Linked DNA regions of Homo sapiens. The protein of the gene in region 6 interacts with the protein of the main gene of each other region in a biochemical or structural test. Each region holds a gene or a part of one and is shown on either strand. Other genes may lie near its edges. The genes, in order: ARHGEF16, FRMPD4, RASSF6, PROCR, SLC15A5, PSMD9 and MAP2K2.

Region 1 (4,281 bases), on a different chromosome or scaffold from region 6:
CATGGACAGGTATGTGTGCATGGGCAGGGGTGTGTGTGCGTGGGTGTGTGTGCCTGGGCAGGGGTGTGTGTGCGTGGGTGTGTGTGCCTGGGCAGGGGTATGTGTGGTCTCGACCCTGTGCTGCTCCCTATATGCAGGAGGACCCCGGAGCATCGAGTCTCCTGAGCCTCAGCCTCAATGCTAACCTGAGGGGCGGTGCCTCTGGTCCCCTCGTGGGCTTGGGTGGCGCTGGGAGATGATTAGGGGCCTGTAGTGCCTGGCACAGGGCTGCCCCAACAGTGGTGGTTGCTGGCGCATTCTTATATCAGCCCCGCCCCTGGCGAGTCCCACCCATCTGCTGCCTGTGGGGTGCCCTTGCGGAACTTTGGGGCCCTGAGGGTGGGCAGGGAGCCGCCTTGTCCCTGGAGACAGGGGCTTCCTGTAGAGCTCCAGGGACCAGCTATGGGAAACTCCCAACCTCTGACTCAGCATGGGATGGGGCTGGGGGAGGGGGAGGGGTCTGGGATAGCGGCTGCCCCTCCCCCAGCTCTGCCCCCAGCCAGGCAGGCTTTGTGTTCTCTGAGCTCTGTGTCCTCCGGTCCCCTCTGCCTCAGGCAGCTGCATGTTTGCCTCTGACCTCCTCAGGGCTTTAGATTGCTGCCCTGGGGCGGGAAGCTCCGGCCTCCTCCCCCAGCTGGGCCCCCGACAGCTCCTGGCATTCACAGTGAACTGTCTGGGGAATCATCGCTATTTGGGGTAAGCGGCTGGTGGGCGGCTCTCCCAGACCTTTCTCAGAACCTGCAGTCACCCATATGAGCTGCTGACCGGCCTGGCCGGCCTGGGCACGTACGCATGTCGTGGCCCTGCTCATCCAGCAACCGAGGCCTCCCATGACCTGCTGGGTCCTCGTCCACGGGGACTGCAGCTCCATCTGCTGGGGATTCTCAAGGGCAAGCAGCTGTCAGGACACTCTCCCTGCAGGAAGCGTGGCTCCTGCGTGGGTGGCAGGCCCAGTCGGGCCCCGTGAGCAGAGGAGGAGGGACTCCCGCCCACCTCCACGCTGGGTAAGGGAGTCCTCCGAAGGACAGAGCTCTTGGGCTGGGAGGACCTCCTGTGGCGGCGGCCTGGAGACACGGATGTGGTCTCGGGTTGGGTGCTCTGAGGGTCTGCAGGATGGACGAGGCTCCAGCCACCGCCTCACACAGCAGGTGACCATCGTGGGTCCAGCCAAGCCCAGCCTTGGTGGCCGTGGCCGCCCATGGGGGCAGAATCCTGGCAGCCCTGGCCTAGCTCTGACCAAGTGTTAACTCCCTTCATCCTGATCACCCTGGACCAAGGCCTGGGTCATGGGGAGGTGAGGGGCTGGTAGCCCCTTCCAGGGAGTCTGCCAAGAGCCCACAGCTGGCCCCCCCCCGGCCTTGACTGTTCCCTCAGAACGGGGTGGGGGACCTAGTGAAAGTAAACAGTTCATGAACCCAGCTGGGAGCTTGACCAGCAGAGCTGCCTCGGATTTGGGACTCATCCTTGGAAGGGGTGGCCCCAGGCATCGCCCCTCTTTGCTCTTGTGCCTGTCCCCTGAGTCTCCGTCCTTGAGTTTCTTCCCAGGGGCAAGCTGGTGCGGCAGCGGGGGCCCGGGCCTGTGTGGAGGCCCAGTCGTTTTAGCTGGAAGGAGCTTGAAGGGCGAAGGGCACCAACTGGACAGGGCACCAGGACAGGAGGTCCAAATGGGCCCGCCTTTGGGGACAGTCCCTGGGGCTGCCCCTGGACAACAGAGGGACGGCACCAGTGCGTGGGATCGTGGCAGGGGGCTCTGTAAGGAGCCCCAGGCCTCTGACCACTTCCCACCCGCCCTCCCTGCTGTCCAGCATCCCAGGTCCGGGTCCCGCCCCAAGTGCTTGCTGTGTGCTGCCTCTGGGAGCTGAGCTCAGCTCCTGCCACGTCCATGTATGTGTGAGTGTGCATGCAGATGCATGTCTGTGTGTGCACACGTGGGGCCCGACCACCAGGCCCGTGGCACCCTCCTCACCCCTCCTTGCCTTCAGGTTCTTCGAGGACCTGGAGCAGCGGCACAAGGCCCAGGTGCTGGTCGAGGACATCAGTGACATCCTGGAGGAGCACGCTGAGAAGCACTTCCACCCCTACATCGCCTACTGCTCCAACGAGGTCTACCAACAGCGCACGCTGCAGAAGCTGATGTGAGTGGGCGGCCCCGAGGCCCGCAGGGTGGCTCAGGAGCATCCTGCACCCTGGTCTCCCAAAGCACATTCCTGCTCCCAGCCCAGCTTCTGCAGGTCCTGCCTGATTTTGGTACAGGCTGGCCATGCAGAGCCTGGAAGGACAGCCTTGTCCTCTTGCAGAAGCAGCAACGCCGCCTTCCGAGAGGCCCTGAGAGAGATTGAGAGGCGGCCGGCGTGCGGGGGCCTGCCCATGCTCTCCTTCCTGATCCTCCCCATGCAGCGGGTGACCCGGCTGCCCCTCCTGATGGATGTAAGTCCACGGCCTGAGGGTGGGGCCGGGCATACCATCCTGGGGTCCCACGGCCAGAGCCCTGCCCCGGATGGAGCATTACGTGCTTGTGACCTTCTCCTCCAGGCTTGGCCTATGATATTGTAATAGTTACGATCCTAAGATGGCTTTATTAACCAGGATAACTTTGTGGTCGCCGCCACCCACAGAGCTCACTGTGCCGGGAACTGTTCCAGCCCTTGGCGGATTTGTGTTCACTTACTCAATGGTTCATGAGGTTCAGGCACACTGACGAGTTGGAACTGGCATCACCCAGAGCCCTGCTGAGCCTCCTCCCAGCCCCCACCCCACCAGTCCTCCTAGACGTGGTAGCCCTGTCCCTGGCACCTACTCTCCCTGTTCTGTGGACGCAGAGAGGGGCTCAGAGAGGCTCACCAGCATGGGCTGTGTGTGTGGGATGCCAGCCCACAGGGCAGAGGGTATATGAGGGTGAAAGGTGTACACACACACGCACACATGTATATACAGTGTACACGCACTCAGGCACGTATGTGCCCATGTGCACACAATGCATATGTATGGATGCACGCCAGTACACACATGCATGCACACTTGCACACACTGCATTGCACCGATGCATGCACATGTGCACACAATGCACACGTTTGCATACATGCACACACAGGCACTGCACACACATGCACCCGGTGCACACACATACACGTGGATGCACACACATGCATGCACATGGTGCACAGGCATATTCACACATGTGCATGCTGCCCATACACACAGCCCCGCACATGGCAGGACTGAGCTAAGCTTCCTGAGGCTACACATGGCAGGGTTGCCCAAGCCAAACAGAACCTCAAACTCCTGGGGGCCCCAGGGATGTGCAGAAATGGGGCTGCCAGGGGGCCTCCACTGACGATTCCCCAAGTTGGATGGAGATGGCCGAGGATGGGAAGGGAAGGGTTCCAGGCAGGGGTGCTAGCTCCTGTTCCCACTCAACCTGGCCTGACCTGGCAGAGCTCCAGGTGGTGCAGAGGCCGTTCAGGGGCTGTACGTGCTGTGGGGCCCTGCAGGAGCCCCCTGGGGGCAGCTGTTGACCACCCTGCAGCCCCACACGGGGTCTGGCGTTGGTGGGAGCCTCCACACCTGGGATGCCAGAGGGGACTTTCTGTCCCATGTCTGTTGTCCATCCAGACGCTCTGCCTCAAGACCCAGGGCCACTCCGAAAGGTACAAGGCTGCCAGCCGTGCACTGAAGGCCATCAGCAAGGTAAGATGGGGCCTGGCCCCAGCCCTACCCGAGTCCTGTACCCCGACCCTGTCCCCACCCAACCCCACCCTACCCGATGGCATAGGGCTGGCTTCCCCTACCTTCCAGGGCAGCGAGTGTTCTCAGATTATCCATCCCAAGCCTTTCACAGCGCTGACAGGGAAACTGAGGCCCAGAGGTTCCCAGATTATCCATCCCAAGCCTTTCACAGCGCTGACAGGGAAACTGAGGCCCAGAGGTTCCCAGATTATCCATCCCAAGCCTTTCACAGCGCTGACAGGGAAACTGAGGCCCAGAGGTTCCCAGATTATCCATCCCAGGCCTTTCACGGCGCTGACAGGGAAACTGAGGCCCAGAGGTTCCCAGATTATCCATCCCAGGCCTTTCACGGCGCTGACAGGGAAACTGAGGCCCAGAGGTTCCCAGATTATCCATCCCAGGCCTTTCACGGCGCTGACAGGGAAACTGAGGCCCAGAGGTTCCCAGATTATCCATCCCAGGCCTTTCACGGCGCTGACAGGGAAACTGAGGCCCAGAGGTTCCCAGATTATCCAT
Region 2 (4,281 bases), on a different chromosome or scaffold from region 6:
GTTATCCAAACTTGTGCTGGGGGCAGTTTGAGGGAACAGATGGGAGAATAGTATGGCCCTAAAATTTTCTGGAAATGTTGCCTCTGGAATCTACAAGGCAATATCAACAGAATGACCCAGTTCTCTGTCTTGTTAAATATCAGAGCAAATCTCCACATCAAAATTCCAGATTGAAAGATGCTTGAAGAGCAAACAAAATAATAGTATTTAAATTGGGGTTTTGTAATTTTAATCCATGAGGAACATGAAACAAATTTTCAGGAGTTCCTATGATACAAACAAAAATTGAAATTAATCTAAATATTAATTATGCTTAGAAATTACAGAGAAAAGTACGTTACCTGTGACCATGCCACCTTATGCATTTTATACACACACACACACATATACACATGGGCATGCATGCTGACATTTATACATGAATATTTTAACATCCACTAGGATATCAAAAGACTGAAGATAGAAGTTTTGTACTATCATTACAACATTTATCTTAATTTCCTAAAAACTATGGTAAAACTCTGACGATCCTTGACCGTCTCTGAATTCAATGAGGAAAACACTCAATATCTTCCTCCATGAAGTAGGGAATATTAAATCTCACCTTACAAGGAAAAGAACAATTAATGTTCTGGAATAACGGCCTATTGAAATCTCACCTTTAAGGGTAAAAGACATGTTGTATATTTACATTTGTAGATATGAATGAAGCCTTTTAATAATAGAACCAAGGGTCAGATGGAATTAAGCTATACTTCCCTACCCCCAGATGGTATTACATTTTATCAAATAGCAATTACAGTTTATGCAGTATCAATTTTGTTAAGGTCGGTTCTCCTAACCCAAGGAATTCTTACACCTGAAGCCTAAATCAATAAGTACTATATTTGGGTAGTTGAAAAACTGTATTTACATAAGTGATGCTACAAGCCATTAAGTTAAAAAACAGAGACGAGCCTCCCACCCCCGCCCCACCCAAAACCAGACAGTACAGTAATGTGTCTTTGCGTGATTCTTTCTCTTTAGGACCTGAAAACAAGGGGAAGCATAACCTCCTTGGCCCAGATTGGAACTGTATACCCCAAATGACCACCTTTATTGGCGAAGGGGAACAAGAAGCCCAGATAACATACATAGATTCAAAGCAGAAGACGGTGGAGATCACAGACAGCACCATGTGTCCAAAAGAGCACCGGCACTTGTACATAGACAATGCCTATAGTTCAGATGGACTTAACCAGCAGCTGAGCCAGCCCGGGGAGGCCCCCTGTGAGGCAGACTACAGAAGTCTAGCTCAGCGGTCCCTATTGACCCTCTCAGGACCAGAAACTCTGAAGAAAGCACAGGAATCTCCGAGAGGAGCTAAAGTGTCCTTTATTTTTGGAGACTTCGCCTTGGATGATGGTATTAGTCCCCCAACCCTTGGCTATGAAACGCTACTAGATGAGGGTCCTGAAATGCTGGAGAAGCAGAGAAATCTCTACATTGGCAGTGCCAATGACATGAAGGGCCTGGATCTCACTCCAGAGGCAGAGGGCATCCAGTTTGTGGAAAATTCTGTTTATGCAAACATAGGCGATGTGAAGAGCTTCCAGGCCGCGGAGGGGATCGAGGAACCCCTCTTGCATGACATCTGTTATGCAGAAAACACTGATGACGCGGAGGACGAGGACGAGGTGAGCTGCGAGGAGGACCTCGTGGTGGGGGAGATGAACCAGCCGGCCATCCTCAACCTGTCTGGGTCAAGCGATGACATCATTGACCTCACATCCCTGCCCCCTCCAGAAGGTGATGACAATGAGGATGACTTCCTGTTGCGTTCCTTGAACATGGCCATTGCCGCACCCCCACCTGGCTTTAGAGACAGTTCAGATGAAGAGGACTCTCAGAGCCAGGCAGCTTCCTTCCCCGAGGACAAGGAGAAAGGCAGCAGCCTGCAAAATGATGAGATCCCCGTGTCCCTCATTGACGCTGTGCCCACCAGCGCCGAAGGCAAGTGTGAGAAGGGACTGGATAATGCCGTCGTCTCCACGCTGGGAGCTCTAGAGGCTCTATCCGTGTCAGAAGAACAGCAGACCAGTGACAATTCAGGTTCTTTCACAATTGTTACATTCATTCACTGATAACCATATCATTCCATCCTTCCAAGCCATTTGCCCCTGGAGTCCTGTTACGTGGTGTTCTCCATTTCACACATGTCCCATTTCATAAATGTGCTGAAACTGCCATCATGGGTTTTTTTGTGTGTATGTGATTTCCTTTGTTATTTTTTTTTAAAAACATAAGGCACATCTCCCCCCACCCCCATTTCTGGAAAAACTGCAATAAACTCAGAGTCCTTACTGAAAAGGGAAAAACTTGGTATTTTGTTTTAGTAATAACGAGTCCCATTTTCTTACATGTCTCCAAGTGCCTCTGATGCATCCATTAATCAGTTCTTGTTTTTTACGGCATGCAGGTGTAGCCATCTTGCGGGCTTATAGTCCTGAGTCTTCGTCAGACTCGGGCAATGAAACTAACTCTTCTGAAATGACTGAGAGTTCTGAACTGGCCACAGCACAAAAACAGTCAGAAAACCTCTCCCGCATGTTCTTGGCCACTCACGAAGGCTACCACCCCCTTGCAGAAGAGCAGACCGAGTTCCCGGCCTCCAAGACCCCCGCTGGGGGCTTGCCTCCAAAGTCCTCGCACGCCCTGGCTGCTAGGCCAGCAACCGACCTCCCGCCCAAAGTTGTGCCTTCCAAGCAGTTACTTCACTCAGACCACATGGAGATGGAGCCTGAAACTATGGAGACTAAGTCGGTCACTGACTATTTTAGCAAACTGCACATGGGGTCGGTGGCATACTCCTGCACTAGCAAAAGGAAAAGCAAGCTGGCCGATGGTGAGGGGAAGGCACCCCCTAATGGGAACACAACAGGAAAAAAACAGCAGGGGACCAAAACGGCAGAGATGGAGGAGGAGGCCAGTGGTAAATTTGGTACTGTGTCTTCACGAGACAGTCAACACCTGAGCACTTTTAATCTGGAGAGAACTGCCTTTCGCAAGGACAGTCAAAGATGGTATGTGGCCACTGAAGGTGGGATGGCTGAAAAAAGTGGATTAGAAGCAGCAACAGGGAAAACCTTTCCAAGAGCTTCTGGTCTTGGGGCAAGGGAGGCCGAAGGGAAGGAAGAAGGAGCTCCTGATGGAGAAACCAGTGATGGCTCAGGACTTGGTCAAGGGGACCGCTTCTTAACTGACGTGACCTGTGCATCTTCAGCCAAAGACTTAGATAACCCAGAGGACGCTGACTCGTCCACCTGCGACCATCCTTCCAAGCTTCCTGAGGCTGATGAGAGTGTGGCCCGCCTTTGTGACTACCACTTGGCCAAGCGGATGTCATCACTGCAAAGCGAGGGCCATTTTTCTCTGCAGAGCTCCCAAGGCTCTTCAGTGGATGCAGGCTGTGGCACAGGCAGCAGTGGCAGTGCCTGTGCCACACCCGTGGAGTCGCCGCTCTGCCCCTCCCTGGGGAAGCACTTGATTCCTGACGCTTCTGGGAAAGGCGTGAATTACATTCCTTCAGAGGAGAGAGCCCCTGGGCTTCCCAACCACGGAGCCACCTTTAAGGAACTGCACCCACAGACAGAAGGGATGTGTCCACGGATGACAGTGCCTGCTCTGCACACAGCCATTAACACCGAACCCCTGTTTGGCACATTGAGAGATGGATGCCATCGGCTCCCCAAGATTAAGGAAACCACAGGTACAGCAATGATGGATTTAGCACTTTGTATGACATGCCAAGAGCATGTAAACCATATTTACAACAAACTTAAAAACGTAATGTCTGGAAGAAAAGTAAAAGGTAGAATTTTAAAAGGCCACAGAACTGTAAAGTACCAATCATTGATCCCCTGGTATTTAATAAATACTAAAGATTATAAAGGTGAAAATGGCATTTGCTCTTTATAATCTTACTCTGTGCTTGCTTTCAGAATTGGATGGGGCAATATGTTTTTCCTAAATTCTAAATGCAGATGTTTAGCAATGCCCAGTGTGACTTTTAGTTATATGATAGTATTGCTTAGAGTCACATAACAGTTTGATTTTCTTCCCAAGACATCTGAGTTCTAATTCTGCCATTTCATTATTGAGGGACAAGGAAGGATAAGAGAGCAGGGTATCAGGGAGATTGGAGGGGTTTGGAGAGATCATTTGCCTTTCGGCAATCTTACTGATTCCTCCCTACTCTGTAAGACTGCTCTATATGGATGTTCTGAAGTGTCTTGCATACCC
Region 3 (4,281 bases), on a different chromosome or scaffold from region 6:
CTCCACACATCTTCTCAGAAAACTTATTTACATATCCACATTTTTACTCACACAAATGCCGTGTGTGTGTGTGTGCGTGTTACATGTGTGGGTGTTATAAATGTTTGTGTCTGTATACTTTGATGTTAATTTACTGATCTCTCAATATAGGACTTATCTTTTTAACAGTCCAATGAGCCACCCCAAAACCCACCCATCTCTACATCTGCTGAACCCACCCCATTTCTACAGAGCCTTGGAATACTTGGAGATTGTGCATATAAATAAAATATGTGGAAATAAATCCTTACTTAATATCTCTATCCGTTTTTAAATATGCATCTGGTGACATTCTTTCTTACTTATTTTGAAATCTTAAACTGCACTAAAGAGGGGTGTAATTGTCCAGTGAAAATGTTATAAGCATCCTCAAATGGTGTTTTACCTAATTTACTCTAGAAACAATATAAAGCTGCTTAAAAGAACACATAATATTCAAAAACAACAAAGAAAAACAAACAAAAACAAAACAAATTTTTTAAATTAATGACCTTGGATTTTTTTTGCCCTATAAGAAGATTATGTTCAAGATATTGAATACCCTTAATATAATATAATTTTAAAGACTTATGTGACAATTCTTTTTCTAGACATCAATTTTCATTCCAGCCTTTGAATCAGAAACTAAGGTCAGAGTAAACAGTAACATGAGAACTGAAGAAGTAATAAAGCAACTTCTCCAAAAATTTAAGGTAACCTTTATCACTTAACTGAGCTATAAATATATTATATATAATTCAACTATAAACACACAAATCCACTCTTCTGAAACAGATCTATAAAGGTGTAAATCTAAATTGGATGTTGAGCACTGAAAGATTCTTTCCTTTGTATAACACCTTTTAGTAACTATCCCTTGAAAAATTATATAATTCCCATAAGAGCAGAGAAGATTTTATGTCTAAAAGTGAAAAATGGAAGAGAGAAAACAGACATGATTTGGGTCTGGTCAGGTTAGAAAACATCATATAACAACAAAGAATTTATATTTGTTCATTTTTTCCCTTGACAGATTGAAAATAGTCCCCAGGATTTTGCTCTTCACATTATTTTTGCAACAGGAGGTAAGAAAGCTTGATCACACTTTTTACCTGACTCTAGAGTGCTACAGTTTGCTGCCCAGGGGGAAGGCAGAAGAACAGTTTGCCTCATTCTGTGGAGAAAGGGGAGGAATGGGTAGGAGAAAAGGAAGGAGTGGTCTTTAGAACATTATCTATAGTCCACAATTTTAAAGAAAGATAACTTAAGAATAAGGTATCCCTGAAGGGTTGATTATATGAAAGAGTTTGCTTGTTGGCCAGACATTAAATTATCTAAATGGAGATCAAAACCCTCTGGAACTGTTTCGGCACTTTTGTCTTTGCTCACCTCTGTAACTTTCTTTTTGGCTTTCCTTTCTGAGTGTTGCTCTTAGAGGAGTCATGATTGCATACCTGTTCTCTCTGACATTGATATTGCCTCTTTTTTAGCACAGGGTCTGACACATTGCGGGAGTGCTATCTCTTCCTCAGTAGAGATGCATATTCAGAACTTCGTGGTGAGGGGTGAAAGGTTAGAAGCAGAACATTGGGAAGGCGCTGTAAGTGGGATGCTAGGAGCATAATAGAGAGAATAGAGAAAACTTAAAGTGATACTGAAATGAAAGTTTTTAAAACTTCACAAATGAAAAATTTTATATATCAATTTGTAGAAAAAACTCATGCTATAATTTAAGTGTCAGAATGTTCAAGCCAGAAATTTATTAGAATAAAATAATACATTTTGATGCCAGAACACCTTAAGAAAATGAAAGCTGTATCTCTAAACATATATAAAATTAAAGTTCTTATAATTGAAAGCTTAAAGATCTATAATTAAAGACTTAAACGTTAGACCTAAAACCATAAAAACCCTAGAAGAAAACCTAGGCATTACCATTCAGGACATAGGCATGGGCAAGGACTTCATGTCTAAAACACCAAAAGCAATGGCAACAAAAGCCAAAATTGACAAATGGGATCTCATTAAACTAAAGAGCTTCTGCACAGCAAAAGAAACTACCATCAGAGTGAACAGGCAACCTACAAAATGGGAGGAAATTTTCGCAACCTACTCATCTGACAAAGAGCTAATATCCAGAATCTACAATGAACTCAAACAAATTTACAAGAAAAAAACAAACAACCCCATCAAAAAGTGGGCAAAGGACATGAATAGACACTTCTCAAAAGAAGACATTTATGCAGCCAAAAAACACATGAAAAAATGCTCACCATCACTGGCCATCAGAGAAATGCAAATCAAAACCACAATGAGATACCATCTCACACCAGTTAGAATGGCAATCATTAAAAAGTCAGGAAACAACAGGTACTGGAGAGGATGTGGAGAAATAGGAACACTTTTACACTGTTTGTGGGACTGTAAACTAGTTCAACCATTGTGGAAGTCAGTGTGGCGATTCCTCAGGGATCTAGAACTAGAAATACCATTTGACCCAGCCATCCCATTACTGGGTATATACCCAAAGGACTATAAATCATGCTGCTATAAAGACACATGCACACGTATGTTTATTGCGGCATTATTCACAATAGCAAAGACTTGGAAGCAACCCAAATGTCCAACAATGATAGACTGGATTAAGAAAATGTGGCACATATACACCATGGAATACTATGCATCCATAAAAAATGATGAGTTCATGTCCTTTGTAGGGACATGGATGAAATTGGAAATCATCATTCTTAGTAAACTATCGCAAGAACAAAAAACCAAACACCGCATATTCTCACTCATAGGTGGGAATTGAACAATGAGAACACATGGACACAGGAAGGGGAACATCACACTCTGGGGACTGTTGTGGGGTCGGGGGAGGGGGGAGGGATAGCATTAGGAGATACACCTAATGCTAGATGACGAGTTAGTGGGTGCAGCACACCAGCATGGCACATGTATAGATATGTAACTAACCTGCACATTGTGCACATGTACCCTAAAACTTAAAGTATAATAATAATAAAAATAAAATAAAATAAAATAAAGATCTATTTTTTGGAAAATTCTAAGGACACATATATATTCATATTCTAGTTGTTTAGGAAAGAAAGAAAACCAAAAGATATAAAATAAATGGTAGCAATACTGGACTGTGTAACAATTTAAAAGATACAAATAGTAGATTACAAAGAATATTGTCAATGTACTCCAAAGATTAATAACTATAATACCAATAATTTCCTACAAAATGGTAACAAAACAACAGACAATCCGATAAAAATAGAAAAAAGCATGAAAATACAATTGAAAGGAAAAACCATAATAACCAGTTAAATAGTTTTAGAAAAGTCTTAAATTCAGTGAAATGCAAGTAGCTAAGGAAATGCAAGCTCAAGCCACACCGTAATATTATCTTGCACTTCTCAGATTGGCAAAATGCTTTAAAATGATTCTACCCATGGCTGGCATGCATCAGGGTAAAAAGATATTTTTATGCAACACTAGTGAAAATATGACTTTCTTCTTATTGGAATTTATTCTTGCAATATTTATTAAAATTTACAGTATATATGTCCTTTAACTTGACCATTCCATTTGTGAGAATCTATCCCACAAAAATATAAGCACTAGTGCCTACAGATTTATGTGTAACACTGTTTATAAGGACAAAAAGCTAAAGACAAAGTTACTCATCCTAGGGAAATGATTAAATAAGTGATTGTTAGGCTGCCATTGAATGGAATGAGTAGATTTATGCCAATAGAATGGAGGGAGTTCCATAATATATTTTAAGTGAGAAATGCAAGATGCCTAAAGGTATATATAAAAGATCCCATTTTTTAAACAGTTACAAGCTCCCATTTAAGTATGTGGTATATATGGTCTTATGACTAGGGAGAAAGGTATGGAGTGATAAATACAAAACCATTGAGATAGATTACCTGGTGGGGGATTGGGGAAATGCAGATGAGAGGATGAGAAGGGGGGTGTCAGGCACGGTGGCTCATGCCTGTAATCCCAGCACTTTGGCAGGCCGAGGTGGGCGGATCATTTGAGGTCATGAGTTTGAGACCAGCCTGACCACTATGGTGAAACCCCGTCTTTACTAAAAATACCAAAAAAATTAGCCAGGTGTGGTGGCGCACACCTGTAATCCCAGCTACTCAGGAAGCTGAGACAGGAGAATCGCTTGAACTCAGGAGGCGGAGGTTGCAGTGAGCTGAGATCGTGCCATTGCACTCCGTCTAAAAAAAAAAAAAA
Region 4 (3,572 bases), on a different chromosome or scaffold from region 6:
GAGCCACCGCGCCTGGCCGACAAAACACATGCTCTTAAAGATAAAATTATATTGCTTCTCCATGGAAACCACAGGTAGATAGTATTTGCAGCCATGAAGGTCAGTAGGTCACCTAGAAAGGGTATAGTTCAAACAGGAACAAAAGGAACCAAAAAATGGAATTCTAAGGAAGCCAGCATTTCCAGGGTGAATCGTGTAAGATGACATAGTCAAAGGGATTGAAAAAAAGTAGACAGAACAGTTTTAAAAATTGAAGTATGGTATCTCAGAAGTTAAGGCAAAAAGAGAGTTCTAGTCCGCAAATTTGCAGATACCATGTAGGGTGATGGTTTGACAATTAGAGGTTACTGGTGATCTCAGAGTAGTTTATAGAGAAGTCAGATTGCACTGGGTCTAAGAATGAGTGAGAAGACCAGGCGCAGTGGCTCACGTCTAATCCCAGCACTTGGGGAGGCCGAGGTAGGCGGATCACGAGGTCAGGATGGCCAACGTGGTGAAACCCCATCTCTACTAAAAATACAAAAATTAGCTGGGTGTGGTGGCATGCATCTGTAATCCCAGCTGCTTGGGAGGCTGAGGCAGGAGAATTGCTTGAACCGGGAGGCAGAGGTTGCAGTGAGCTGAGATCACACCATTGCACTCCAGCCTAGGCAACAGAGCAAGACTCTGTCTCAAAAAAAAAAAAAAAAAAAAAAAGAATGAGTGAGAAATAAGGAAGCAGAAGAAATGGGTATAGGTTACTTTTCCAGAAATTTTGCAAAGTGGAGGAGATAACAATGCCTTAAATATAAGAAATTTATTAATATTATTAATTGATTAATAATTGATCACTGCCATATGACTTGGATTTTACATTTCCACCACTTCTTCGTGTTACTTCTTTCTACCCTATTATATCAGCGTCCCATCCCAAGTCTGACACACCTGGAAGTATTGAATGTTGTATTTTGATTGTGGATGACTTGTTTATTTGGTTATATCTTTTGAACGCCTCAGGTGATTCTGTCTGTCTTTGGAGGATGGGCCATAGGCTTCCTGCCCCAACTCCATTATCTGTTTTCCACAAAGATAGATAAACATTCACTTATCAGACTAATTCAGCAAAGCATACACGTTCTTAGGTTCTTAGCAAACCAAGTACTTTGTCCACCTCTCCTCTCCATCTCCCCTCCCTCAAATCTTCAGTGGGCAGATGTGGGAGAAGAAAGGAGCTGTCACTCCAAACCTTCTGGTGTTTCAGTTGGGGAGTCTGGCTTCACAGTGAGCTGAAACTTTCCCTTGCCAGCCTCCATCAATCCAGCCCCTTCTGAGGGGGCTGGAGAGTAATTAACATCGCCGTCCACCTGTGCACAGGAAGATGCCTACAGCCACACCAGCAATGATGAAACTGCCCACCAGGACGCCCAGGACCAGCGAAGTGTAGGAGCGGCTTGTTTGGCTCCCTGCAGAACATGCAAAGAGTTAGCCCGAAGAATAGGCCCCCAAGGAGTCCATGATTTGAGTCAAACCCCAAAGCGTTTCTGCCCCAGAGGAAAGGGACCCGTTTACCAACTGACTGAAGCTGCGTGTGTTCTGTCCCAAACCCCCAGCTGTGGGCCTCTTGTTGCTCTAGGCATCCATCCTTCAGGTCCATCCATTTGTCTGGAACCCGCCCTCTCCCCAGCTTGCAGGCCTGGGCCCCGTCCCATCATACCTTTCGTGTTTTCCGCGGAAATATGTTTCTGCACATACTGCACACAGGTGTCCTCCAGGAATTCCCGCAGTTCATACCGAGTGCGGTTGTAGGCATTGAGCTGCTGCAGGGTGAAGGTGACCACTCCGGAGGTGACCTGGGTGTCTGCCTGCCACAAGGCTCTCTCCGGCCGGAAACTCACAAAGGAGCTCCCATTCACAGCCACTTCGAAGAAGACATGGGCTCTAGAGCCCTCGGGAGGCAGCTCACAGCCCAGGAAGCAGCGGATGGTCAGAGGAACTGTGGATAGACAGTCAGGGTCAGGGGACTGTGCAGAGAGGGTGCCAGGTGTGGGGCGAGGCCCACCAAGGGGAAAAGAACATGAGAAGGCAAGAGTCAGTGCTGTGAGGAGAGGGGAGTCTAGGTCAGGGAACTATGGGGAGAAGGGCCTGGGGCTGTGAGGAGGGGTTTGGGGTTAGCCTGTTAGAGGCTAAGAAAGAAGGGGCCAGGGACTGTGATGAAAAAAGGGAATTGTCAGGCCTTGTTCAACTGTAATAGAAAAAAAAAACAGGGGGTGAGGCTGGGGCAGGGGCGGCAGCTCACGCCTGTAATCCCAGCACTTTGGGAGGCCAGGCTTGTGGATCGCCTGAGGTCAGGAGTTCGAGACCAGCCTGGCCAACATGGCGAAACCCCGTCTCTACTAAAAATACAAAAAATTAGCCGGGCGTGGTGGCGGGTGCCTGTAGTCCCAGCTGCTTGGGAGGCTGAGGCAGGAGAATCGCTTGAACCCGGGAGGCGGAAGTTGCAGTGAGCCGAGATCGCGCCACTGCACTCCAGCCTGGACGACAGAGCAAGACTCCGTCTCAAAAAAAAAAAAAAAAAAAAAAAAGGGGGGTGGGGTGGGGGACTAGGAGAGAAAGGAGTTAAAGGCCATGATGGTGGGGGAAGGGGGACGGAGTGGTGCTTGGTGCTTTGAGAAAAGAAATTGGGGTCTTTGAGAAGAAGGAGTTAGGGTTGTGACGGGGAAGGAGTGGGGCTTTGAGAGAAGAACTTGGGGTCTTTGGGGGAAGAGTTCGGGTCATGAGTGGAGCTAAGAGCGAAGTCATCAGCTTGTATGAGAAGTGGCTGGAGGGTGGGGGGTGAAGTGCTGGGGGCTGTGGGAAGGGAAGGACGGAGATCTATGAAGAAAAGGAGTTGGAGGACTGTGAGGCGAGGGGTGAGGAGTTTTCTGGGGACCTTCGACGTCACGGTGTCAGGGCCTTCCAACAGGGTCTATCCCAAGAGGTTATGCCAGCAGGACGACCGCCCGAGTCGGGGCTTTCTTAGCGGGGACAACTGCCTCTCTCCAGCCCCCACCCAGCAATCTTCAAAGGCCCAGGCGCCACCGAGCTCCAGTGGCTGCCGGGTCCCTGCAAGTCCCAGCCCGCCTCCATCCGCCAGGCCCCGCCCCCACCCGCCAGGCCCCGCCCCCACTAGCCCCGCCCAGACCCCGCCCCCGCTGCGCGCCTACTCACAGGCCAAGGTCCGCTCCTGGTGCACCAGGCGCACGAGGCCGTGGAACTGGAGCAGGTAGGACTGCAGGCCACTCTGCGTGCGCGCCCAGCTCTCGGGCTCCTGCAAGGGCTGCAGCTGAATGATCGTGGTGTTGGTGTCTGGGCCTTCCAGCACGTGCGTTAGGTGTCCCCCCAGCGACGCGTTGCCCTGGTACCACACGTGATAGGGGTCGCGGAAGTAGGAGATCTGGAGCATATGAAGTCTTTGGAGGCCTGCGGGCAGAGTCAGCTTCAGCCTGGGCCGGCGTGGGAGGGGGCGGCGGGCAGCGGAAGATAATAACCCCCTACCTCGAGGCTGGCCGCCCGCCTTCTCGACCCTTCATAAACTATAATGTGCCCTCCCACCG
Region 5 (4,984 bases), about 110 Mb from region 6:
TGTGAGGCCACCCCAGCCAGGTGAAACTGTAGGTCCATTAAACCTCTTTCCTTTATAATTATCCAGTCTCGGATATGTCTTTATTAGCAGCATGAAAACAGACTAATACACTGCCATCTGAATAACTCAGCTGCCACCATGCCCATTCTTAAGTCATTCCACTCAAGATTAAAATTCCACAGGAGAAAAGTAAAAGGACTATCTTAGACCGGGTGTTGACCCACTTGGTTAGAAGAAAAGGCATATGCTGATCAACAGCCCCACCATGATCTCAGGTAATAGATAGGAGTCATTCTCCAAAGGTAGGGTGAACACATGTTAGAGTGTTGCCCTGGACAGTCCCAGTTTATAACTGTTTTTTTTTTTTGGGGAGTAACCATAAATAGCATCACTTTTCACCTGCACAAAACTGTCCAAGTTTGGATCATAAATTGCATGATCAATTTACACAAAGGAAATTTAGGGCATCGTTACCAAAGTAGCAATGCTGAGCAGAGACAAATAGCTACCATTACAATGAGGCTATTAGAAGGGGTCAAAACAGAGTATTTTGCCCCCAGTCTCTCACAACCAAAAGATGATAACCAGAGTCAAAAGTCCCTATTGGTCTTTAGGTTTTGACTACAGCATGAAAATAACATTCCTATACTCAAGTGTTGAATTATTATGACTTTGACCCAATAGTTCCGGTCCCTTTTCTTCCTATGTCCTTGCAGCTAAGCCACTAAATGTTAAGGTGTTCTCTTTCACTGCTGCTTTTTTAGCTTAATTGGCCCTCCTGCTTTCCAAAATAGAATGCTAACACCCATTCACCCAGCTGAAGGGTCAGGGTGATACCAGATCCAATATTCCCCAAAGCCTGTGTAGGCTGGTTGCTGTATCCCTGACTACTGATTAATAATAAAGGAGTTAAATAGCACCTTTTGATTCTGATTTCCTCTGAGAGGCTGTTCTACAAGCATGGGGTCAACTAAAAGGAAGCAGGGTTTCGTTTAATATTTTCTCCTTTCATTAGTGCACTTAAATTACTTTCTTGTAAACTCTGCTTGTTACCTAAATGTACTAGCACTTTTGTTACCTAATTAAGTTTCTTATCAGAATTCCAACCAAAAATAACAAGAAATGTAATAATGATAAGATATCGTGCCCTTCAAAACAGATTTCCTTTTGCGCTTTATCTCTTGGTACTGTTCTGGCTTGTTTAATTAAAGTATCAGAAATTATTAGACTCAAATTATTTCTTGATCTAGTGCTCAAATTCTCCCGAAAACCTGCTTCTTCTGCCTCAATATTTAAACCTTTATCAGTATGAGGCAGATGAGTTTCCACATGTTTGCAACTGGATTCATGTAATTCAATACAATTTTGGAGGACGATCCTAATTTAGCCGCTAAGTAATTAAGCAAACAAATCAGATTTGGGTACACTGAGCTACTGTGAACATTTAAATACTCATGCTCTTGGATCATCAAAAGGAACAACGTCCATGTGCAAAAAACAAACCTTATGAAATTCTAGCATGGAGATGTGAAATTCAAAGCAACGTTCTTATTTTTTTCATCAGAGGGATGGGGCTCAAAATATCACCAAGTTCAAACCACTAACATAAGTTTTGTTCAAGGAGGGTAGTCATGTCTGTTACAGGCTTTACCATAACTGATGAGAAAGTACACTTATATCACAGCATTGAGAAGGAGAAAACTGTAAGACATATTGGCGATTTGTGTTCCTCACACTCTGTGAAAAAAATTCAGGTTGGAATCTGCTTGCTTCTGGTGGAGCTGTGTGAGAGGTTCACGTTCTTTGAAGTCGTCTGCAACATGATCCCCTTTTGCACTATCAAGCTTGGCTATCACAATTGCCAAGCAGCCATCTTAAACTTGTGTTTTATTGGAACTTCAATACTTACCCCTGTGTTTGTCAGATGGCTCACTGATGTCTATTTAGGAAGAAACAAACTGGTGTACATTTGCTTGTTTCTACATTTTCTAGGTGAGTGTCCTCTGCTGACTGGATTGTTTTGTGACTTAATTAAGTAGATTTTTGTTAGAATTTTTAGTTTATATTATTTTCACTCTGCTCTTAGCATAAAATGTGATAAATGAAGTAAGAATGTGGGTTCAATGTATTTCATTCTTTGTACTATTTGAAGAATGCTAGTAAGTCTGTGTGTGTGTGTGTGTGTGTTAGAGAATGTTTTGTGCCTATATCATTGCATTTATATTTTATAATAATTACTCCTTTACATATCTATCTTACTCCTTAGAATGCCCTCCTTTCCCAAAACCTTTTTACCTCAAGCCTAAATTCATGACAAATTCCCTCAGAAATGTGAAATGTATTTGCTTCACAACTAAGATGAAATGTGCTAAAAAAGGTTTTTGAAGTTCATGTAAAATAATTGAGAAATGTTTTTATCCAAAGGTGGTCTTTTAATTAGTCATATAGTAATTAAGATTGCATATGATGGCATGATTTCTATATTTTTAACTATGATTATATGCTTTAGAAATGAGTAAATTAGACACTATAGTGTGCATCTTTACATATATACTAATATATATCTGCAAAAGTTTGGGACCGATTGTGAGAAATGCTGGGAAAATATCAAGATAGTTTAATAAGAAATAGAGAGCAACTTGAAGAACAGACTAGAATTTTAAACTGAAAAGTTCAAGTTATTCTTCTTAAGCAACAAGAAGTCTCTGAAAATATCATGAAAACAACATTTGAGAAATGCTATTCTGCAATACAGGATGGACAACCACAGTGAGGAATTAAATAGAGAGAGATCAGAAAATCTCAGGATGATGGTTTAAGCAATAAAGTGCCAATTCAGGAGAGAACAAGTGAAAAGCTGTAAGGCAACTAAATAAAGGTACAAATGTGATGGGGGTCAAAAATTAGCTCCAAGTTTCTGATCTGAGCAACTTGGGAATATAGCATGCTGTTCACCAATAATGAGAAGTGCAGCTGAAATGAGTATTGGTAGGGGGACAGATGAGAAAGAGATGGATAGATATCAGGTACTCAACATATCACACAATCTCAGGCAGGTGGTAAATTACCATTCAGAGAATCCATTGGAGTTTAAGTCAAACCTGGAAACTTCACAGCTTTAGTTCTGTGGAATAAAAACTAGGTCACTGCATGGCAAATAATCACTCAACATTCAACAAATATTTCTTATTGACTACTCTGTACCAGACATTATTCTGGGTCTGGAAATGCAATAGAGAAGAAAGTCGTCTGTTCCTGCTAAAGTTGACTTTTTGGTGCAGGGAGAGAGAAAATAAAAGAGGAAATAGATATGATGTCATGTGGCAATGAGTTAGGATGGAAAAATAAAGCTGGGTAGGGGGACAGGATGGAATGGATGGTGATGAGGCTGCTACTTGGTACCGAGAAAAAGTTTTCTGATAAGAAGACATTTAAGCAAATCCCAGACTAACTTACTCTGCTTACCTTGGTAACAGGCCACACCAGTAGCATTTGTTGACTTCTTGTTTAACATGGTAATTTCTATCAGTCTAAATTCTGAGGTCAGTCATCAGACAGGATGGAAATCCCAACTTTGGAATCTGGCAAACAAAAGACTTAAGTCAACTCTACATCCATTCATTTTTTTACTAAAAGTTATTTCTTTGTTGCCCTCCACTTACAGCTGCCATCAAATTCCAACTGTCACTAAATTTCAGAGGTTATATATAAGAAAGGTCTTCTGTCTGAATTGCTACTACCCTAGCTGAAAAAATGCAGCTTTCTTCTTTTTAACCATTCCAATGGCCTACTTACTCGGCTGCCAGTTCTCAGTCAGTCTCCAGCTTGTACTCCATTCTACCAACAACACTGACTTCCTGAACAAATAAATCTCTATATTGCTTCTATTATCTAAAAAATGAAATCCAAACTTATTAATTTAGCATACAACAACCTTACCAACCTATTCTAAGTTCACCTCTCTAGACTTGTTGTTCAACACGCAACCCCAACCTTGCTAACTTCTCCTGGCCTCCTTCCCTAGTTTTCTAATCTTGTACATGCTCTTCTCTCTTTCTGAAATTGTCACCTTCCCTTATCTTTCCATCCCTTATCCATGATTGGAAAACTCCTGCTATTCTTTCAAGAACCAAATAGTGTTTGTTGCTAGCTTCTCTGTGTTCAACCACACCCATATAATACTTATACGATTGCATCCATCACTTTATAATATAATTGTCCACCTGCATGGCTGACTTCTCTGATGGACTCAACATTTCCTTCAGCGGACCCCCATCACCTGGCAGGGGGTATGACACATCATGGTGCTTCTACAGAGCTACTAAATGCAGGCATACTGATGATGAGATACACAATTGCACACATCACAGAGGAGACTTTTCTTCATATATGTCATTGTTTTGTCTCTTTACTGCATCATTTTACAACAGATAGGGATAAAGTTTTGATTTAACACAATCAGCCTATTATGACATTTTCTCAAAAGATGGAAGTAAAGTGCCTAAGTTACACAAATATATCATTCAAACTAAAAGTGCCTTGTTCCTAATAGTTCCTGCATGAAATAGTTGTCCTGTCCCTCCTCTTTGGACATCCCTTTGTCTAGCCAGGCCTCACGTCACACCTACAGAAGAGAAGACTAAGTGGTAGAAAGAGAGCAGTTAGTTTCATATCTGGCTAACCTTAAAAGGGAACATTTCAAACTCAATAATTTAAAGGGCTCACCTCATGGTAAATGAATCTGTTGCCAAATAGCTATTAAGGGCATATAGTCTTTACATTGTGAAAGCCTCTGTAGGGGAGATGGAAGCATTAGACCAAATTTTTATCTGTAAGGAATTTATAATCTAATTGAGAAAACAAATCACATGAAATAACTGTATAAAAATTTATACCAAATAACATTAATGCCAAATTAATAAAATGAAGAGCAAAACGAACATGGAGGAGCCATTTTTCACTAATCGAATCATCAAAACAAAAA
Region 6 (4,281 bases):
CCTTTGCTCCAAAGTGACAGTGGCAGAGGAGGCAGGTCAGGTAGTACCGCAATCCCACTGACAGGCACAAGGTATCAAAATACCAGCTGCTGTGCTGGCGTGGCCTGCAGATTGCCATGGTGGTTCACAACATTTTGAATTAGCTATCTGTACTGAAAAATCAGAGAATTTCACTTCAAAGATCCCAATTTTCAGCTTTTCTGGAAAAATCAAAGATTTTGTAGCATTGGGTCTTCCTCCCAAACCCAGCCAATTGGCAAGAGCCCTGTAGCAGGGGTGCCCTTTGGCCACCTCCCTGTGGACTCCCTCTCCTGGACTGAATGTCTCCAGGATTACTAGGCTTATGCAGCACTTTTTTTTTTTTTTTTTGAGACGAATTCTTGCTTTGTCGCCAGGCTGGAGGGCAGTGGTGCGATCTCGGCTCACTGCAACCTCCACCTCCTGGGTTCAAGTAATTCTCCTGCTTCAGCCTCCCAAGTAGCTGGGATTACAGGCACCCGCCACCACGCCCAGCTAATTTTTGTTTTTGTTTTGTTTTGTTTTGTTTTTGAGACGGAGTCTTGCTCTGTTGCCCAGGCTAGAGTGCAGTGGCGCGATCTCGGCTCACTGCAATCTCCGCCTCCCTGGTTCACGCCAATCTCCTGCCTCAGCCTCCCGAGTAGCTGGGACTACAGGCGCCTGCCATCATGCCCGGCTAATTTTTGTATTTTTAGTAGAGACGGGGTTTCACCGTGTTAGCCAGGATGGTCTCCATCTCCTGACCTCGTGATCCGGCCACCTTGACTTCCCAAAGTTCTGGGATTACAGGCCTGAGCCACCACGCTCGGCCTAATTTTTGTATTTTTTAGTAGAGACGGGGTTTCACCATGTTGGCAAGGTGGTCGCGATCTCTTGACCTCGTGATCTGCCTGCCTCGGCCTCCCACAGTGCTGGGATTACAGGCGTGAGCCTCTGTGCCCGGCTTATGCAGCATTTTTCCTTCTAGAGGATTTCAGAGAAAAGTGAAATCTTGATTACACCCAGCCTGAGTCATTCATTCACATGATCACAGCGCTGGCCCCTCATACATATGCCTTTGAGTTCATGGCTGTGGATTCAGCTGGTTGTTACCTTCCTTCTGCTCACCTCTCAGGGCTCACCCGAGACAGCACTGCCTTCAGGAAGCCTTCCCTCATATCCTAGACTAGCGAGGGCAGACTTTGCTGCTGGCCAGGCCTCCCTGCAGTCATCAGATGTTATTGTAATTACTTATTCTGGAGCTGCTCCTTGCAGGACTGAATGCTCCATGAGGGAATGTCCTCTGTCTTGGTCAGAGACTCCTTCTCACCTCTAGCTCCACATCTGGCATGTAATAAGCACTTGTTAACTCTTCAGTGAATAAATGTAGGAGTCTTGTGTCCTCCACTGTCTTCCTTGGCCCCTGATGTGTGGTTCTCATCCCAGGCCTGCAGAATGATCACAAGGCAGTGATGAAGCAGGTGGAGGAGGCCCTGCACCAGCTGCACGCTCGCGACAAGGAGAAGCAGGCCCGGGACATGGCTGAGGCCCACAAAGAGGCCATGAGCCGCAAACTGGGTCAGAGTGAGAGCCAGGGCCCTCCACGGGCCTTCGCCAAAGTGAACAGCATCAGCCCCGGCTCCCCAGCCAGCATCGCGGTAATCCAGGGGTTGGCCACTCAAGTCCATGCCCAGGGGACACGGTGGGTCAGGTAGCCTTCGGGGATGTGGAAAGACAGACTAGTTCTCTCCGTGCTGCGGTGCTGAGTTCAGTTACTCATTTAACAAACACTGACTGAGGCCTGTCGTGTATCCAGCCCTGTGCTGGGGGCAGAGTTTTAGAGAGGGGTCAGCCCCGGCTGCCCACTACATTGGTGGGGGAGTGACCTCTTCCCAGTGACAGAAGATGATAAATGTCCCAAGAGAGGGAGAGGATCTCTTCTTGGGGCTCATTTTAGCTGGGCACTGAATGATGAAAATGAGAATGGCATCTTGCCAAATGAGTTATGCATCTTATGTGGTGTCTTAAAAAAAACATTAGGCTGGGCACAGTGGCTCATGCGTGTAATCCCAGCACTTGAGAAGGCTGAGGCGACTTGGAAAGCTGAGATGGGAGGATCACTTGGGCTCAGGAAGTCGAAGTTGCAGTGAGCTGTGACTGTGCCACTGCACTCCAGCCTGGGTGACAGAGTGAGACCTTGTCTTAAAAAAAATTTTTTTTTGACCGGGAGCATTGGCTCACGCCTGTAATCCCAGCATGTTGGGAGGCCGAGGCCAGTGGATCACTTGAGGTCAGGAGTTCGAGACCAACCTGGCCAACATGGCGAAACCCCGTCTCTACTAAAAATACGAAAATCATGCCACTGCACTCCAGCCTGGGCAACAGAGTGAGACTCCGTCTCAAAAAAAAAAAAAAAATTTACCCATTTAAAGTCCGTATACAGTTTAGTGTCTTTTGGTGTATTCACAGAGCCATGCATTACCACAATCAATTTTCTTTCTATTTAAAAAATTTGCAGCCAGGTGCAGTGGCTCACGCCTGTAATCCCAGCACTTTGGGAGGCTTAGGTGGGCGATCACCTTATGTCAGGAGTTCAAGACCAGCCTGGCCAACATGGCGAAACCCCATCTCTACTAAAAATACAAACATTAGCCGGGTGTGGTGACATGTGCCTGTAATCCCAGCTACTCGGGAGGCTGAGGCAGGAGAATCGCCTGAACCCAGGAGGTGGAGGTTGCAGTGAGCGGAGATCGTGCCACTACACTCCAGAGCCTGGGCGACAGAGTGAGACTCTGTCTAAAAAAAAAAAAAAAAAAAAAAGGAGATGGGGTTTCGCTCTGTTGCGTAGGTTGGTCTCCATCTCCTGGGCTCAAGTGATTCTACCACCTTGGCCTCCCAAAATGCTGGGATTATAGGCATGAGCCACCATGCCCAGCCATAATCAATTTCAGAACATTGTCATTGTCTTGTAAAGAAACTCTGTAGTGATTTGCCATCACTTCCCAATCCCCCAGCTCCCCGCACCCAGTTATCTACTTTCTGTCTCTATGTATTTGTCTATTCTGGATATTTCCTATAAGTTGAATCATATAATATGTGACCTTTTATGACTGGCTTCTTTCACTTAGCAAATTTTCAAGTCATCTGTATTGAGCATGGATCAGTGCTTCATTTGTTTACAGACAGGGTCTCACTCTCTCACCCAGACTTCAGTGCCATGGTGCCATCATAGCTCACTGCAACCTCAAACTCGCAGAGTCAAGTGATCCTCCTGTCTCAGCCTCCCAAGCAGCTAGGACTGTAGGCACATGTAACCATGCCTGGTTAATTTTTTATTTCCTTTTTTTTTTAGAGATGGGTTCTCACTATGTTGCCCAGGCTGGTCTTGAACTCCTGGCCTCAAGCGATCCTTCTTCCTCGGCCTCCCAAAGTGCTAGAATTACAGGCATGAGCTGTCATGCCTGGCCCTTCATTCCTTCTTTTTTTTTTTTTTTTTTTTTTTTTTTGAGACGGAGTCTCGCTCTGTCGCCCAGGCTGGAGTGCAGTGGCACGATCTCGGCTCACTGCAAGCTCCGCCTCCCAGGTTCACGCCATTCTCCTGCCTCATCCTCCCGAGTAGCTGGGACTACAGGCGCCTGCCATCACGTCCAGCTAATTTTTATTTTTTGTATTTTTAGTAGAGACAGGGTTTCACTTTGTTAGCCAGGGTGGTCTCGATCTCCTGACCTCGTGATCCGCCCGCCTCAGCCTCCCAAAGTGCTGGGATTACAGGCGTGAGCCACTGTGCCTGGCCCTTCATTCCTTTTTATGGCCAAATAATATTCCACTGCCTGGATATATCATATTTTATTTATCCATTTGTCAGTTAATGGACATTTGAATTGTTACCACTTTTTGGCTATTACGAAGCATGTTGCTGCGAACATTCTTGTACAGTTTTTTTGTGGAGATGTAGTTAAATTTAATTCCACAGCCACTTCTGGGATAGGTCCTAATCTTTACTCATTTCATCCTCGAGGAAAAGCCTTGCAGACCTGAAGTAACTTATGTCAGGACACATAGTTCCTGCCAGGTGGAATGGGGTCCTAAACCCTGGTCAGGACACATAGTTCCTGCCAGGTGGAATGGGGTCCTAAACCCTGGTCAGGACACATAGTTCCTGCCAGGTGGAATGGGGTCCTAAACCCTGGTCCTACCAGTCTTCTTTAATGGTCACAAGTCTGTAAGTTACACAGAAGCTCCCTATCATTCACTACCCCATCTACTGCATCTAACCCAGTGCCA
Region 7 (4,281 bases), on a different chromosome or scaffold from region 6:
AGGCCAAGTTCCCACTGCCACCGTCTGGCGTGCGTCTCTTCTGTGCTCAGCAGAGAGGAAAGTGGAACTGAGGCTAGAGAGGGCGGGCTGGAGGAGCCTGGAGAGGCTGGCTGGGGAGCCTGGATTTCCCCACCATGCTGCTCCAGGACTCCTGCAAAAGCCCAGCCTTCCCTGGGATGGCTTTCATTCACATGGGTGGGAGGAGCCGGGGGAGAAATCCTGGGACTCAGGGGTGCCCGGGTTGCCGCTCTCTGGCCACTTCTGCCCAGCTAGGCTTGGAGAGAAAGGCCGAAGGCAGTTCTAGAAAACCCAACACGCTTTGAGACCTCTAAAGCATACACGTGACTCCATCCACCAGCTCCAGGCTGAAGACGCAGACACACAGGGTGAGAGGGCAGGTATGGCCAGGGCTCAGACAGCCCAGGAGGAGGTGCCAGGACGGGAGCTCCAGTGAGCCAGGGCCAGGTGGAAGCTGCTTCTATTCTCAGTTTTTATCAATCTACCTTAAAAGAATTACTTAAAATGAGGCCGGACATGGGCTGGGAGCGGTGACTCACGCCTGTAATGCCAGGACTTTGGGAGGCTGAGGCAGGCGGATCACTTGAGGTCAGGAGTTTGAGACCAGCCTGGCCAATATGGTAAAACCCCATCTCCACTAAAAATAAAAAAAATTAGCTGGGCGTGGTGGTGGATGCCTGTAATCTCAGCTACTCGGGAGGCTGAGGCAGGAAGATCACTTGAACCTGGGAGGCAGAGGTTGCTGTGAGTCGAGATCGTGCCACTTCTCTCTCGCCTGGGCGAGAGAGCAAGACTCCTCAATTAAAAAAAAAAAAAAAAAAAGCCGCACGTGGTGGCGCACACCTATAATCCTACCACTTTGGGAGGCCAAAGCAAAAAGAATGCTTGAGCTGAGGAGTTTGAGACCATCCCGAGCCACACAGTGAGACCCCATACCAAAATCAGCCGGGCGTGGTGGTGCACGCCTGTAGTCCCAGCTACTCAGAAGGCTGAGGTGGGAGGATCCCTTGAACCTGGGAGGTCAAGGTTGCAGTGAGCCGAGATCACACCACTGCACTCCAGCCTGGGTGACAGAGCAAGACCCTGTCTCAAAAAAACAAAAACCAGAAAGAGACCAACGACTCGAAAGAGGCAGGGTGGCGAAAACCAAACAGACGCACCAAACGCAACCCTAAAACCCCTGCTCCCCAGCACAGCTCCTTCCGTCTTCGTTTCTCCTGGGGCCGCAATCAATGTTTGTTTAGTGAGAAAATTCAAAGAGCCTCTCCCCGGAGATGAGGGCGGGCGGAGCGCTGTGCTGCAGCCTCAGGAGCTGGTGGAAGACGCCTCACAGGAGCATCGCTCTCTCTGCAGCCGCCTTTCTCCACTGTGACATCGGGGCCAGGTCACTCTCTGGGGTGGGGCCGACCTGGGCACTGCAGGGCGCTGAGTAGCGTCCCTGGCCTCCATCCACTCCACGCCAGGAGCATCCCCCAGTTGTGACAACCACACACATCCCCAGACAGTGCCAGGTGTCTCCTGGGAGGGAGAACTGCCCCTGGTTGAGAAGGGCTGATCTCCAGCTATAAAGACCAAAGTCTGGCAGGGTAAGCAATTTGTCTGAGTCACAGAGACAGGATGTGGTGCAGGGGGTATTGCAGCTGTGTACTGCTGACCCCAAATCTCACTCTGTGCATGACCATACACGTCTACCGTGTGTGTGTGTGTGTGTGTGTGTGTGTGTGTGTGTGTGTGTGTGTGTGATGTTTAAAATGGTCTTGTAACTGTAATTTTGTTACGTAGGTAGTAGGTGAACACATTTTTCTTTCTTTTTTTTTTTTTCCTGAGGCGGAGTCTCGCTCTGTTGCCCAGGCGGGGGTGCAGTGGCACCATCTCGGCTCACTGCAAGCTCCGCCTCCCGGGTTCACGCCATTCTCCTGCCTCAGCCTCCTGAGTAGCTGGGACTACAGGTGCCCGCCACCACACTCGGCTAATTTTTTGTATTTTTAGTAGAGATGGGGTTTCACTACTGGTGTTAGCCAGGATGGTCTCGATCTCCTGACCTCGTGATCCGCCCGCCTCGGCCTCCCAAAGTGCTGGGATTACAGGCTTGAGCCACCGCACCCGGCAAACACATTTTTCTTATAAAAAATTCAAATGAGGATAAATAACCTGGACGCCGCATCACTTCCACCATTCCCCCCTCAAGTGTGACTTATATTGTTCCAGATCTTTCTTCATCTCTCTCTTTCTTTCTTTCAGGCAGGGGTCGCCCAGACTGCAGCATAGTGCTGTGATCTTGGCTCACTGCAGCCTCCACCTCCTTGGTTCAGGCAGTCCTCCCACCTCAGCTTCCCAAGTAGCTGGGAGTACAGGCGCGCCACCATGTCCTGCTAATTTTTTGTAGAGACGGGGGTTCCTCATGTTGCCCAGGCTGCTCTCGAAGTCCTGGCTGAAGAGGTCCTCCCACTTCAGCCTCCCAAAGTGCTGGGATCACAGGAGTGAGCACCTGGCCCCCGCATCTTGCTGTGTATTTGGAAACACAGACTCGGGACTCACTCTCTTGCCCAGGCTGTAGAGCAGTGGCTCAATCATAGCTCACTGCAGCCTCGACCTACTGGGCTCATGGGATTCTCCCAAAGCACTGGGATTAAAGCATGCTTGCCCAGCCAGAGTTTAAAACAACATCGAAATGGGCTCATGTCTGTAATCCCAGCACTTTGGGAGGCCGAGGCAGGAGGGTCACTTGTGGCCAGGAGTTCAAGACCAGTCTGGGCAATATGGAGAGACCCTATCTCTACACAAATAAGCAAATAAATTAGCTGTGCATGGTGGCTCACGCCTGTGGTCTCAACTACTCGGGAGGCTGACGTGGGAGGACAGCACCAGTACACTCCAGGCTGGACAACTGAGCAAGACCCTGACTTGAAAATACAATAAACAAATGAATGGGCCAATGCTATGTTTATTTTATTTTTCTTTTATTTTGAAATGGAGTCTTGCTGTCGCCAGGCTGGAGTGCAGTGGCATGATCTCGGCTCACTGCAACCTCCGCCTCCCGGGTGCATGTGATTCTCCTGCCTCAGCCTCCTGAGGAGCTGGGACTACAGGCGTGCGCCACCATGCCCAGCTAATTTTGTATTTTTAGTATAGATGGGGTTTCACCATGTTGGCCAGGATGGTCTTGAACTCTTGACCTCGTGATCCGCCTGCCTTGGCCTCCCAAAGTGCTAGGATTACAAACGTGAGCCACTGCACCCAGCCCATGCTATGTTTATTTTCTACAACCACCCCTCCACTACATGAATAGTGTTGTACTGTGGGGATACTCCCATTCAGTACACCATTGTGGATTTCACTTTGCCACTGCAAAGCAGCCAAATATCATTCTTTAATCACTCCCTTACTGATGGACATGTCCAGTTTCCATTACAGTAGAACAAGACGGGCATTCTTCAGCAGATAGGACGAGACCCCCAGAAAGGCCAAGGGGCACCTCTACGAGGTCCGTAAGCCACTGGCTCTCCTTTCCCCATCCCATGAGGCCCCACTGTCCACTGGGTTCTTGCCCCGAGTTATCCAGTAATAGGTTCAGACCCCAGGGAAGCAGCCAGCCCCACTGTTCCTAAGTTCCAGTCACCAACAAGTGCTTGCCATTTTATATAAATACATCACTGGGCACGGTGGCTCACCCCTGTAATCCCAGCACTTTGGGAGGCTGAGGCGGGAGAATCGTTTGAGCCCAGGAGTTCAAGATTAGCCTGGGAAACATAGTGCCATCCCATATCTACAAAAAAACTTGCCGGGCGCGGTGGCTCACGCCTGTAATCCCAGCACTTTTGGGAGGCAGAGGCAGGCGGATCACGAGGTCAGGAGATCGAGACCATCCTGGCTAACACAGCGAAACCCCGTCTCTACTAAAAATACAAAAAATTAGCCGGCTGTGGTGGCGGGCGCCTGTAGTCCCAGCTACTCGGGAGGCTGAGGCGGGAGAATGGCGTGAACCTGGGAGGTGGAGCTTGCAGTGAGCCAAGATTGTGCCACTGCACTCCAGCCTGGGCGACAGAGCTAGACTCCGTCTCAAAAAAAAAAAAAAAAAAAAAAACAAACTTAAAAAGCTACTCAAGCGTGCTGGTGCACCTGTAGTCCCGGCTACCTGGAAGGTTGAGGCAGGAGGATCGTTTGAGCCCAAGAGGTGGAGGCTGCAGTGAGCTAGGATCATGCCACTGCACTCCAACCTGGGTGACAGAGAGAGACCTTGTACCCCCTACCCCCCACAAAAAA

What was found.
Region 1: the proteins of PSMD9 (region 6) and ARHGEF16 interact in a test that uses a peptide from one of them, tested with the Homo sapiens proteins (one large-scale study listed by IntAct).
Region 2: the proteins of PSMD9 (region 6) and FRMPD4 interact in a test that uses a peptide from one of them, tested with the Homo sapiens proteins (one large-scale study listed by IntAct).
Region 3: the proteins of PSMD9 (region 6) and RASSF6 interact in a test that uses a peptide from one of them, tested with the Homo sapiens proteins (one large-scale study listed by IntAct).
Region 4: the proteins of PSMD9 (region 6) and PROCR form a complex in vitro, tested with the Homo sapiens proteins (one study listed by IntAct).
Region 5: the proteins of PSMD9 (region 6) and SLC15A5 interact in a test that uses a peptide from one of them, tested with the Homo sapiens proteins (one large-scale study listed by IntAct).
Region 7: the proteins of PSMD9 (region 6) and MAP2K2 interact in a test that uses a peptide from one of them, tested with the Homo sapiens proteins (one large-scale study listed by IntAct).

What each region holds. Positions count from the first base shown.
Region 1 is NC_000001.11:3,471,057-3,475,337, forward strand, and holds part of ARHGEF16 (rho guanine nucleotide exchange factor 16), read left to right. Parts: intron 1-2,021; coding exon 2,022-2,174; intron 2,175-2,336; coding exon 2,337-2,466; intron 2,467-3,651; coding exon 3,652-3,726; intron 3,727-4,281. UniProt on the Homo sapiens protein: Guanyl-nucleotide exchange factor of the RHOG GTPase stimulating the exchange of RHOG-associated GDP for GTP. May play a role in chemotactic cell migration by mediating the activation of RAC1 by EPHA2.
Region 2 is NC_000023.11:12,715,043-12,719,323, forward strand, and holds part of FRMPD4 (FERM and PDZ domain-containing protein 4), read left to right. Parts: intron 1-1,026; coding exon 1,027-2,091; intron 2,092-2,458; coding exon 2,459-3,748; intron 3,749-4,281. UniProt on the Homo sapiens protein: Positive regulator of dendritic spine morphogenesis and density. Required for the maintenance of excitatory synaptic transmission. Binds phosphatidylinositol 4,5-bisphosphate.
Region 3 is NC_000004.12:73,578,639-73,582,919, reverse strand, and holds part of RASSF6 (ras association domain-containing protein 6), read left to right. Parts: exon of another isoform or gene 1-314; intron 315-629; coding exon 630-731; intron 732-1,051; coding exon 1,052-1,103; intron 1,104-4,281.
Region 4 is NC_000020.11:35,174,568-35,178,139, reverse strand, and holds the end of PROCR (endothelial protein C receptor precursor), read right to left. Parts: intron 3,439-3,572; coding exon 3,187-3,438; intron 1,973-3,186; coding exon 1,694-1,972; intron 1,443-1,693; coding exon 1,327-1,442; 3' UTR 778-1,326; downstream 1-777. UniProt on the Homo sapiens protein: Binds activated protein C. Enhances protein C activation by the thrombin-thrombomodulin complex; plays a role in the protein C pathway controlling blood coagulation.
Region 5 is NC_000012.12:16,274,333-16,279,316, reverse strand, and holds the start of SLC15A5 (solute carrier family 15 member 5), read left to right. Parts: upstream 1-1,631; coding exon 1,632-1,992; intron 1,993-2,791; exon of another isoform or gene 2,792-3,124; intron 3,125-3,465; exon of another isoform or gene 3,466-4,792; intron 4,793-4,984. UniProt on the Homo sapiens protein: Proton oligopeptide cotransporter.
Region 6 is NC_000012.12:121,898,191-121,902,471, forward strand, and holds part of PSMD9 (26S proteasome non-ATPase regulatory subunit 9), read left to right. Parts: intron 1-1,443; coding exon 1,444-1,655; intron 1,656-4,281. UniProt on the Homo sapiens protein: Acts as a chaperone during the assembly of the 26S proteasome, specifically of the base subcomplex of the PA700/19S regulatory complex (RC).
Region 7 is NC_000019.10:4,103,445-4,107,725, forward strand, and holds part of MAP2K2 (dual specificity mitogen-activated protein kinase kinase 2), read right to left. Parts: intron 1-4,281. UniProt on the Homo sapiens protein: Catalyzes the concomitant phosphorylation of a threonine and a tyrosine residue in a Thr-Glu-Tyr sequence located in MAP kinases. Activates the ERK1 and ERK2 MAP kinases.